Linked DNA regions of Homo sapiens: region 1 is linked to region 2. Evidence: fine-mapped expression QTL. A gene starts in region 2. The other region holds a variant in brackets. All regions are shown on one strand. Distances are between the middles of the regions.

Region 1 (4,524 bases), 110 kb before region 2:
GACTTTAGTGTTCATTAACATTTTTTTCCTGTGTAAATTGCTTAAAATTATGGTTTGGATTGTGATAACCAGCCTTTAAGATGGTTCCCAATGATAATAATTTCCAGTTACTTATGACCTTATATAGTCCCTTTCCATATGGAATCAGAGATAACCTATGTGACCAATAGAATAGTACAAGAATAACAGTGTGTGACTTCAGAGGTGAGGTCATAAGAGGCATTACAGCTTCTGCTTTGTCTCTTGAAACACTCACAAGGACTCGTTCTGTTGCCCAGGCTGGAGTGCAGTGGCATGATCATGGCTCACTGCAGCTGCGACCTCCCTAAGCCCAGGAGATCTTCTACCCTAGCCTCCTATGTAGCTGGGATCACAGGCACGCACCACCATGCCCGACTAATTTTTTTTTTTTTTTTGAGACAGAGTTTCGCTCTTGTTGCCCAGGCTGGAGTACAATGGCGTGATCTTGGCTCATTGCAACCTCTGCCTCCTGGGTTCAAACAGTTCTCCTTCCCCAGCCTCCCAAGTAGCTGGGATTACAGGCATGTGCCACCATGCATGGCTAATTTTGTATTTTTAGTAGAGATGGGGTTTAACCATGTTGGTCAGGCTGGTCTTGAACTCGTTACCTCAGGTGATCCACCCACCTCGGCCTCCCAAAGTGCTGGGATTACAGGTGTGAGCCACCGTGCCTGGCCTAATTTTTTTTTTTTTTTTTGTAGCAATAGTGTCTTGCTGTATTGCTCACGCTGCTCGGGAACTCTTGGGCTCAAGGGATCCTTCTGCATTGGCCTCCCAAAGCGCTGCGATGACAGGTGTACGCCAACGTGCCTGGCCCACCAGAATAAATCTTAGAATATTCTGATCACCATGAAAAGAAACCCTAGCTGGGCGCAGTGCCTCATGCCTGTAATCCCAGCACTTTGGGAGTCCAAGGCGGGTGGATCACCTGACCAACATGGAGAAACCCTGTCTCTACTAAAAAATACAAAAATTAGCTGGGCGTGATGGTGGATGTCTGTAATCCCAGCTACTCGGGAGGCTGAGGCAGGAGAATCGTTTGAACCCTGGAGGCGGAGGTTGCAGCGAGTTGAGATTGCACCATTGCACTCTAGCCTGGGCGACAAGAGCAAAACTCTGTTTCAAAACAAAAACAACAACAACAACAAAACCCTGTACCCATTAGCAGTCATTACCCATTTCCAGTGTCCACCCCCCAACCACCCAGCCATAGGCAACCACTAATCTACTTTGTGTCTCTATAGATTTGCCTATTGTGGACATTTCATACAAAGGGAATCATAAAATATATTTTCCTTTGTGGCTGGCTTTTTTCACTCAGCATAATGTTTTCAAGGTTTGTTCATATTGTAGCATATATCAGTAATTCATTTCTTTTTATTACCAAATAATATTTCGTATGTACATACCAATTTCATTATGGATTCATCAGTTGAAGGACATTTGGGTTGTTTTCTACGTTTTGGTTTTTTGAATAATGCTGCAGTTAACATTCATGTACAAGTTTTTGTGTGAAAATATGTTTTGAATTTTCTTAGGTGTATACTCAGAAGTGGAATTTCTGGATCACATGTTAACTTAGGTATATTATCAGGAGTGGAATTTCTGGATCTAGTGTTTTGAGGAACTGACTCTTTTCCAAAGCAGCTATACCATTTTACAGTGTAAACCCACTAGCAATCTATAAGCATTCCAATTTCTCCACATCTTCACAACTAGTATAGTTTGGATGCTCGTATCCCCAAGCCTCATATTGAAATTTGATCCCCAATGTTGGATGTAGGGCCTACTGGGAGGTGTTTGGGTCATAGGGGTGGATCCCTTATGAATAAATTAATCACCTCACTGGTCAGGGAGTGAGTCAGTTCTTACTCTATTAGTTTACACAAGAGCTGGTTTCTAAAAGAGCCTGGCACTTCCCCTGCTCCCTTGATTCCTCTCTTAACATGTGATCTCTGCACACATTGGTTCCCCTTTGCCTTCTGTCATGAATGGAAACAGCCGTTGGACCCCACCAAAAGCCTAACAGATGCCAGCACCATGCCTCCTGTACAGCCTGTAAAACTGTGAGCAAAATAAACCTCTTTTCTTTATAAACTGCCTAGCCTCAGATATTCCTTTATAGCAATACAAACAGACTAAGACACTAGTACTATAATCAAAATCAAGTATCTGTCATTTTGATCGTAGTCATCCTAGGGGGCATAAAGTGATACCTCACTGTTTTGATATGCATTTCTCTGATGGTTAATAATGTTGAGTATCTTCTTATGTGCTTAGTGGTCATTTGTATTTGTATACCTTCTTTGGAAAGATGCCTACTGAGGGCCAGACACCGTGGCTCACCCCTGTAATCCCAGCAGTTTAGGAGGCCAAGGCGAGAGGATCACTTGAGGTCAGGAGTTTGAGACCAGCCTGGCCAACATGGTGAAACTCCATCTCTACTAAAAATGTAAAAATTAGCCGGTCGTGGTGGTGCACGCCTGTAGTCACAGCTACTCTGGAGGCTGAGGCACAAGAATCACTTGAAGCTAGGAGATGGAGGCTGC[G/A]GTGAGCCAAGATCATGCCACTTGTACTGCATCCTGGGTAACAGAGTGAGAAGACTCTGTCTGAAAAGAAAAAAAAAAGAAGAAAGAAAAGAAAGATGTCTTTTGAGATCCTCTGGCCATTTTTTATTTATTTTCATTTTTATTTTTTGAGATGGAGTCCTGCTCTGTCGCCCAGGCTGGAGTGCAGTGGCGTGATCTCAGCTTACTGCAACCTCCATGTCCTGGGTTCAAGCGAATTCCTGCTTCAGCCTCCCAAGTAGCTGGGATGACAGGCGTGCACCACCACGCCTAGCTAATTTGTGTATTTTTAGTAGAGACGGGTTTCACCATGTTGGCCAGGCTGGTCTTGAACTCCTGACCTCAGGTGATCCACCCACCTCAGCTCTCAAAGTGCTGTGGCCCTTTGACCTTTTTTTTTTTTTTTTTTTTTGAGATGGAGTCTCGCTCTGTCAGCCAGGCTGGAGTGTAATGGCACAGTCTTGGCTCACTGCAACCTCCACTGCCTGGGTTCAAGTGATTTCCCTGCCTCAGCCTCCTGAGTAGCTGGGACTGCAGGCGTAACACCACACCTGGCTAATTTTTGTATTTTTAGTAGAGATGGGGTTTCACTGTGTTGGCCAGGCTGGTCTCGAACTCCTGACCTCGTGATCCACTGGCCTCGGCTTCCCAAAGAGCTGGGATCACAGGTGTGAGCCACTGCGCCTGGCCCCTTTGACCATTTTTTAAAAAAAATTTTTTATTTTTTATTTTGCTGTTGTTGTTGTTGTTGTTGAGACAGTCTCACTCTGTTGCCCAGGCTAGAGCGCAATGGCATGATCTCGGCTCACTGCAACCTCCGCCTCCCGGGTTCAAGCTATTCTCATGTCTCAGCCTCCTGAGTAGCTGGGATTACAGGCGCCCACCACGGCGCCCACCTAATTTTTGTATTTTTAGTAGAGACGGGGTTTCACCATCTTGGTCGGTCAGGTTGGTCTCGAACTCCCAACCTCGGGTGATCCGCCAGCCTCAGCCTCCCAAAGTGCTGGGATTACAGGCATGAGCCACTGTGCCCAGCGACCATTTTTTAAAAACTGGATTGTCAGGGGCCGGGCGTGGTGGCTCACGCCTGTAATCCCAGCACTTTGGGAGGCCAAGGTGGGTGGATCACAAGGTGAGGAGATTGAGACCATCCTGGCTAACACGGTGAAACCCCGTCTCTACTAAAAATACAAAAAATTAGCCGGGAGAGTAGTGGCGGGTGCCTGTAGTCCCAGGTACTCGGAAGGCTGAGGCAGGAGAATGGCGTGAACCTGGGAGGTGGAGCTTGCAGTGAGCCGAGATCACACCGCTGCACTCTAGCCTGGGCGACAGAGCGAGACTCTGTTGCAAAAACAAACAAACAAACAAACTAAATTGTCATTGGGTGCAGTGGCGATTGGATTAAATTGTCTTAGAAATTTTGTTGAACATTGGGCCGGGCGAGGTGTCTCATGCTGTAATCTGAACACTTTGGGAGGCCAAGGCAGGTAGACTACCTGAGGTCAGGAGTTCGAGACCAGCCTGGCCAACATGGTGAAACCCTGTTGCTACTAAAAATACAAAAATTAGCCAGGTGTGGTGGCAGGCACCTGTAATCACAGCTACTCAGGAAGCTGAGGCAGGATAATCGCTTGAACATGGGAGGCGGAGGTTGCAGTGAGCCAAGATCACACCATTGCATTCTAGCCTGGGTGACAGAGCAAGACTCTGTCTCCGAAAAAAAAAAAAAAGAATTCTTGTTCAATATCAACTACTTATAAATGAGAGGTGTTTATTTCTGGAGACTTTTCTTGTTTTTCATCTGTATGTCTTTGACTGTTAAAAAGGTGATGGATGTTAGCAAAACTGTTAAGTTGTTTATTCAATGAGCAATGTTAAGTTGGAAGTGACTGAAGAATTAGCTTCAAAGAGTAGTCTCTATGGAATAAGTACATGT
Region 2 (4,000 bases):
TCAGGAGTTCCAGACCAGCCTGGCCAACATGGTGAAACCTGTCTCTACTAAAAATACAAAAAATTAGCCAGGTGTGGTGTCCTGCACCTGTAATCCCAGCTACTCGGAGGCTGAGACAGGAGAATCGTTTGAACCCAGGAGGCACAGATGGCAGTGAGCCGAGATCACACCACTGCACTCCAGCCTGGGTGAGAGAGCAAGACTCCATCTCAAAAAATAAAAAATAAAAGCGTCCCTGACACATACTAATTACAATATAGTTAGTAGACTTTATTGTTGCTATGGGAGCAGAGGGCCAAGAACCAGCACTCGCCATAGCCCATGTCACCCACAAATGGTTAGATGCAGGAGTACCTGCAGCTACTTTCTTGTAGATAATGGAACAAAGGGGGAGCCCTGCTCTTTCACCAAAACCCGAGACCAGGCAAAACTTCAAGACTCATGCTGAGGAGGGGCGCTTCATGAACTTGAATATTAGTGGTCACACAGGATTCTACTCACAAAAATGTAATATCACAACAGTGCAGACCATAGGAAGTTTATTGTGTCTTTGAGACACTACAATGCAGACTCCTCTTCCAGAGAAAGGTCTTTCAGAGACAGGGAACCGTCATCCGGATGCGTTGCTCATTTGTCATTTTCATAGGCAGCTGGATTCTTCCTCTTGGATCTCTCGAACTCTTCAGTCCCCCATGTGTAGATAAGATAAAACACTACAAACTCTTTAAAAATTAAGAGAGTAAACAGAGAGCACACATATAAGACATATAGAAGAAAAAAAAAGGTCTCAGTCCTCTTGTCTTCTTTAAAGCATACACTTCAGTAGTTCTTAGCATATCCAAGGCCATGCAACTATCATCACTATCTGCTGCACGTTTAACACAAAGCATTTCACCACTGGTAAGAACTAAATAAAGGTGACCTCAGAGGAACATGCTGGAATCACCCGAGTGACCTTGGGCCAGTCATTTCAGTTCTGTAGCTCAGTTTTCCCCGTGTAAGATGGGGAGGATAATATGACCAGCTTAAGGGCGGTCAGGAATATTCAATGAGAAAGGTGTGTACGGCAAGTTACAGAGCGCCTGCCCGGCCGCCAGCGCTCAGAGGGGAGGCGCAGTGACTGCTGCTGCTGCTGGGGTCCAGCCTCCCGCTCCCGCGGGCCCAAGGCACTCACGCGGCACCACGCGAAAGAAAGACTCCCGAATGCGGCGCAGAACATTGGGGATTCCTTTAGTGAAGACGTGCGGATAGGCGCGCTGCTCGAACGGTGACAAGCTGTAGCTGATCACATGCCGCATCCGCGTCAGATTCCCAAACTCGCGGCCCATTGTGGCGGCGGCCCTGCAGGACCGAGGGTGGACAGGCGCTTGGCTCGCTTTCGCGAAGCGCCGCAGTCCCCGCGGGGGTCCATCCCCAACCCCAGACTCCTGCCCCTGCACTCCTTATCCTTTCCCAGCCCAGCGGGGCGCCCCTAGCCTCCCAGGGTCCACGAACACTGCACAACCAGACCCCACTCACGCACAGGGCTCAGCTCGCCCTCCACAGTCACCGATCCGGTTGACTCGTTCGTCATTTCCGGCAAGGTTGGAAGCCGCTCTTGGAGGTCGTGAGGTAACTTCCGGGAGATACCATTTTCCTACTGTCTCTAAGGGATGACGCCTTTGTCCCAGAAAGAAGTGGGCTGACTGGGTGACCCGTAGGTGGGAGGTGCCTTGGAGGCCCTGCCCGGGCCGGTGGGGTGGAGCCTAGCGGAGGACGTCGGGGATTGAACTGACTTTGGGGGACAGTGGACAGGCGGAGGCGCTCACACTTCTCCTCAGCCCTCGGCTTTTCTGTGGAATCCCAGTCAGGAAGCGGCCGAATGCGGGAGGCGGGGGAGGGAACAAAAAGGTGACGAGGAAGGGGCCTGCCGACCTCCGGGGCAGCGCTGGCCAGGAGCTTGGGGCCTGCGAGTCTTCCCAGCTGTAGACAGAGCGCCTCTGAGCCCCGAGGCCGGGCCGCCCCACAGCAGAGGAGCACGAGGTTTCATTTGGCCTTGGCCAGTAGCTCAAAGGGGGCTTCGTTATTTTCAGGCCATGAGCGACCCCAGCACCAAAATCAGGGACACACATCGAAGGCTTCTCTTGGACTCTGTTTTAGAGTCCCCTGGCAGGCTGTTAACGTTCCCAAGAGATAATACAAACGTTTCGTCAGTTTCAGCCACAAAAATAATCAAATAATCGTCAATTGATGAATGCTGAGGCCGCCTCGACAGCAGCCAGCGTCCTCCCCAGATGGTTTGCGTGGGGTGGGGGGAATCACGATGCCCCAGTTCTTTCTTCTCCCCACGTGAGAAGCAAGGAAAGTCGGGTGAGAGGCCTTATTATGTTTTCCCTGAAGTGCATTCTGCTTGACGATGCTGTTGTCAATGTACAGCTCGCCCTGAGGTGTCTTGTCAGTGTTTTGTTAATGGAATTGCTGGCCATATTTTATCTAGGACTAAGCTCTCATTCAACAGTTGGCTGTGTTTTATAACACTACTTACGGACCACGGAGGCTCGGCAGGCAGTCAACTTGTATTTTGCAGACATACCTTAGTTTTCTCATGTAGGTACTGCACAAACTGGCTTCGTATCTTGCACTATGAGTGTAGGCTGACTCTTCCAGCATAGTCTCCTTCGGGGTGGCGCTGAATATCCCCTCATTTCAGCTTTTCATGGTGCTCCTTTGCCTCATTTTTTTAAACCATAATGTCTAGCCTGGTCTCAGCTCCAAGGCAAGAACAGAAATACAGGTAAGGACAGAAATATTGTGGCAAATTCTACCACCATTTGGATGAATAATAATAAAACGTTCATTTATTTTATAGCATCTGCAAACATCCCAAAACCTTTCAACCAAAATATGTATAGATGAGTGTGCAGACCAAAGTAAGGACATCAGTATGTTACATTTAAAAATAAGTCAAGGTTAAAGGCGGTGTCCTCTTTTAAGAACATCGCAAATACAATTCCAGTACTCCAAGTACGTATTCTGTACCCAGCCACCTGGGAGGACTGAGAGACCTAATGGTTTTCTGCTTTCTGGAACTTCTATGCCAATTGTGACTTTCTCACCCAAATTTGTAAATTCGCAAATTAACATGCAGCGAATAATTACAATTGTAAACACCTGGAAGTGGAAAAGGCCGTGAGGATAAATTGAGAGGAAGAGTAAACCTAATACCATAAGTTGCATACCAGCAGATCTGAGTATCGTCATGAATAATTGGTTAGCTTTTCCACATGCCTTAGAAGTTTCAGCAAGCACCTAGCGAACATCTTAATCCAAATTTCTCAAAAAATGAGAGATTTTATTTAAGATCATTCCTCAATTTATCTTAGACTTTCAGCTACATAGTTAGTCCGGTAGTGTAACAGTAACGGGTTTTACGTAAATGCCAGGGGAAAAGAGAGGAAAGCTAAATAACCAAGTAAATCTGTATCTAATTAACAAATTGGCTAAATAAGGTGTTATCAGCTGCTTGATATAGAGCTGATAAAATCTTCAGCTAGGCATACTTGAGGCCTGATTACAGAAGTGACCGTAGTCCACCCACACACCTGAAATTTATTTAAGAGACCAAGCTAGGCTCTTCCTGGCCTTTAGGAAGAGGACTGGCATGGAGAAATATGTTCCTCACTAGTTCTCCCAAGCCATGGCACGTCCCAACAAATTCCTCCTTTGGTTTTGCTGCTTTGCCTGGCTGTGTTTTCCTATTAGCCTTGGTTCTCAGGCTTCTGGGGGAGAAGCTCAGATTGCTGCTAGTGCTGAGTTGGAATCTGGGGCTATGCCTTGGTCCTTGCTGCAGCATATAGATGAGAGAGACAGAGCTGGCCTCCTTCCCGCGCTTTTCAAAGTTCTATCTGTTGGGCGAGGTGGGTCACCTAGGCTGCAGCCAGACTCCAGAGCTTTGCACTACATGAAGAAGCTCTATAAGACATATGCTACCAAGGAAGGGATTCCTAAATCCAATAGAAGT

Which allele goes with the higher level. Positions count from the first base shown, and alleles are read on the strand shown. Sizes are in standard deviations (SD) of each study's normalised expression.
In carriers of allele A in region 1, the expression in left ventricle of the gene that starts at base 1,741 in region 2 tends to be lower than with G alone (small effect, 0.38 SD a copy in GTEx).

Evidence for each region. PIP is the estimated chance that this variant, and not a neighbour inherited with it, causes the effect.
Region 1: its variant is the best candidate, but not a certain one, in a credible set for the expression of GDF9 in left ventricle (GTEx, PIP 0.70).

What each region holds. Positions count from the first base shown.
Region 1 is chr5:132,977,125-132,981,648 of GRCh38, reverse strand. No RefSeq gene overlaps it. Among named protein-coding and RNA genes, the nearest start is that of AFF4-DT, 16 kb to the right of the region's middle. The variant G/A (reference allele first, on the strand shown) is at 2,571.
Region 2 is chr5:132,864,210-132,868,209 of GRCh38, reverse strand. GDF9 (growth differentiation factor 9) reads left to right here and starts at 1,741. Exons shown (of 2, transcript NM_005260.7): 1 at 1,741-4,000. The coding sequence starts at 3,677. It overlaps UQCRQ (ubiquinol-cytochrome c reductase complex III subunit VII), which reads right to left and starts at 1,568. Exons shown (of 3, transcript NM_014402.5): 1 at 1,523-1,568; 2 at 1,175-1,341; 3 at 1-722. The coding sequence starts at 1,328. The coding sequence ends at 628. RefSeq lists enhancers at 1,230-1,730, 1,731-2,231, 1,090-2,289.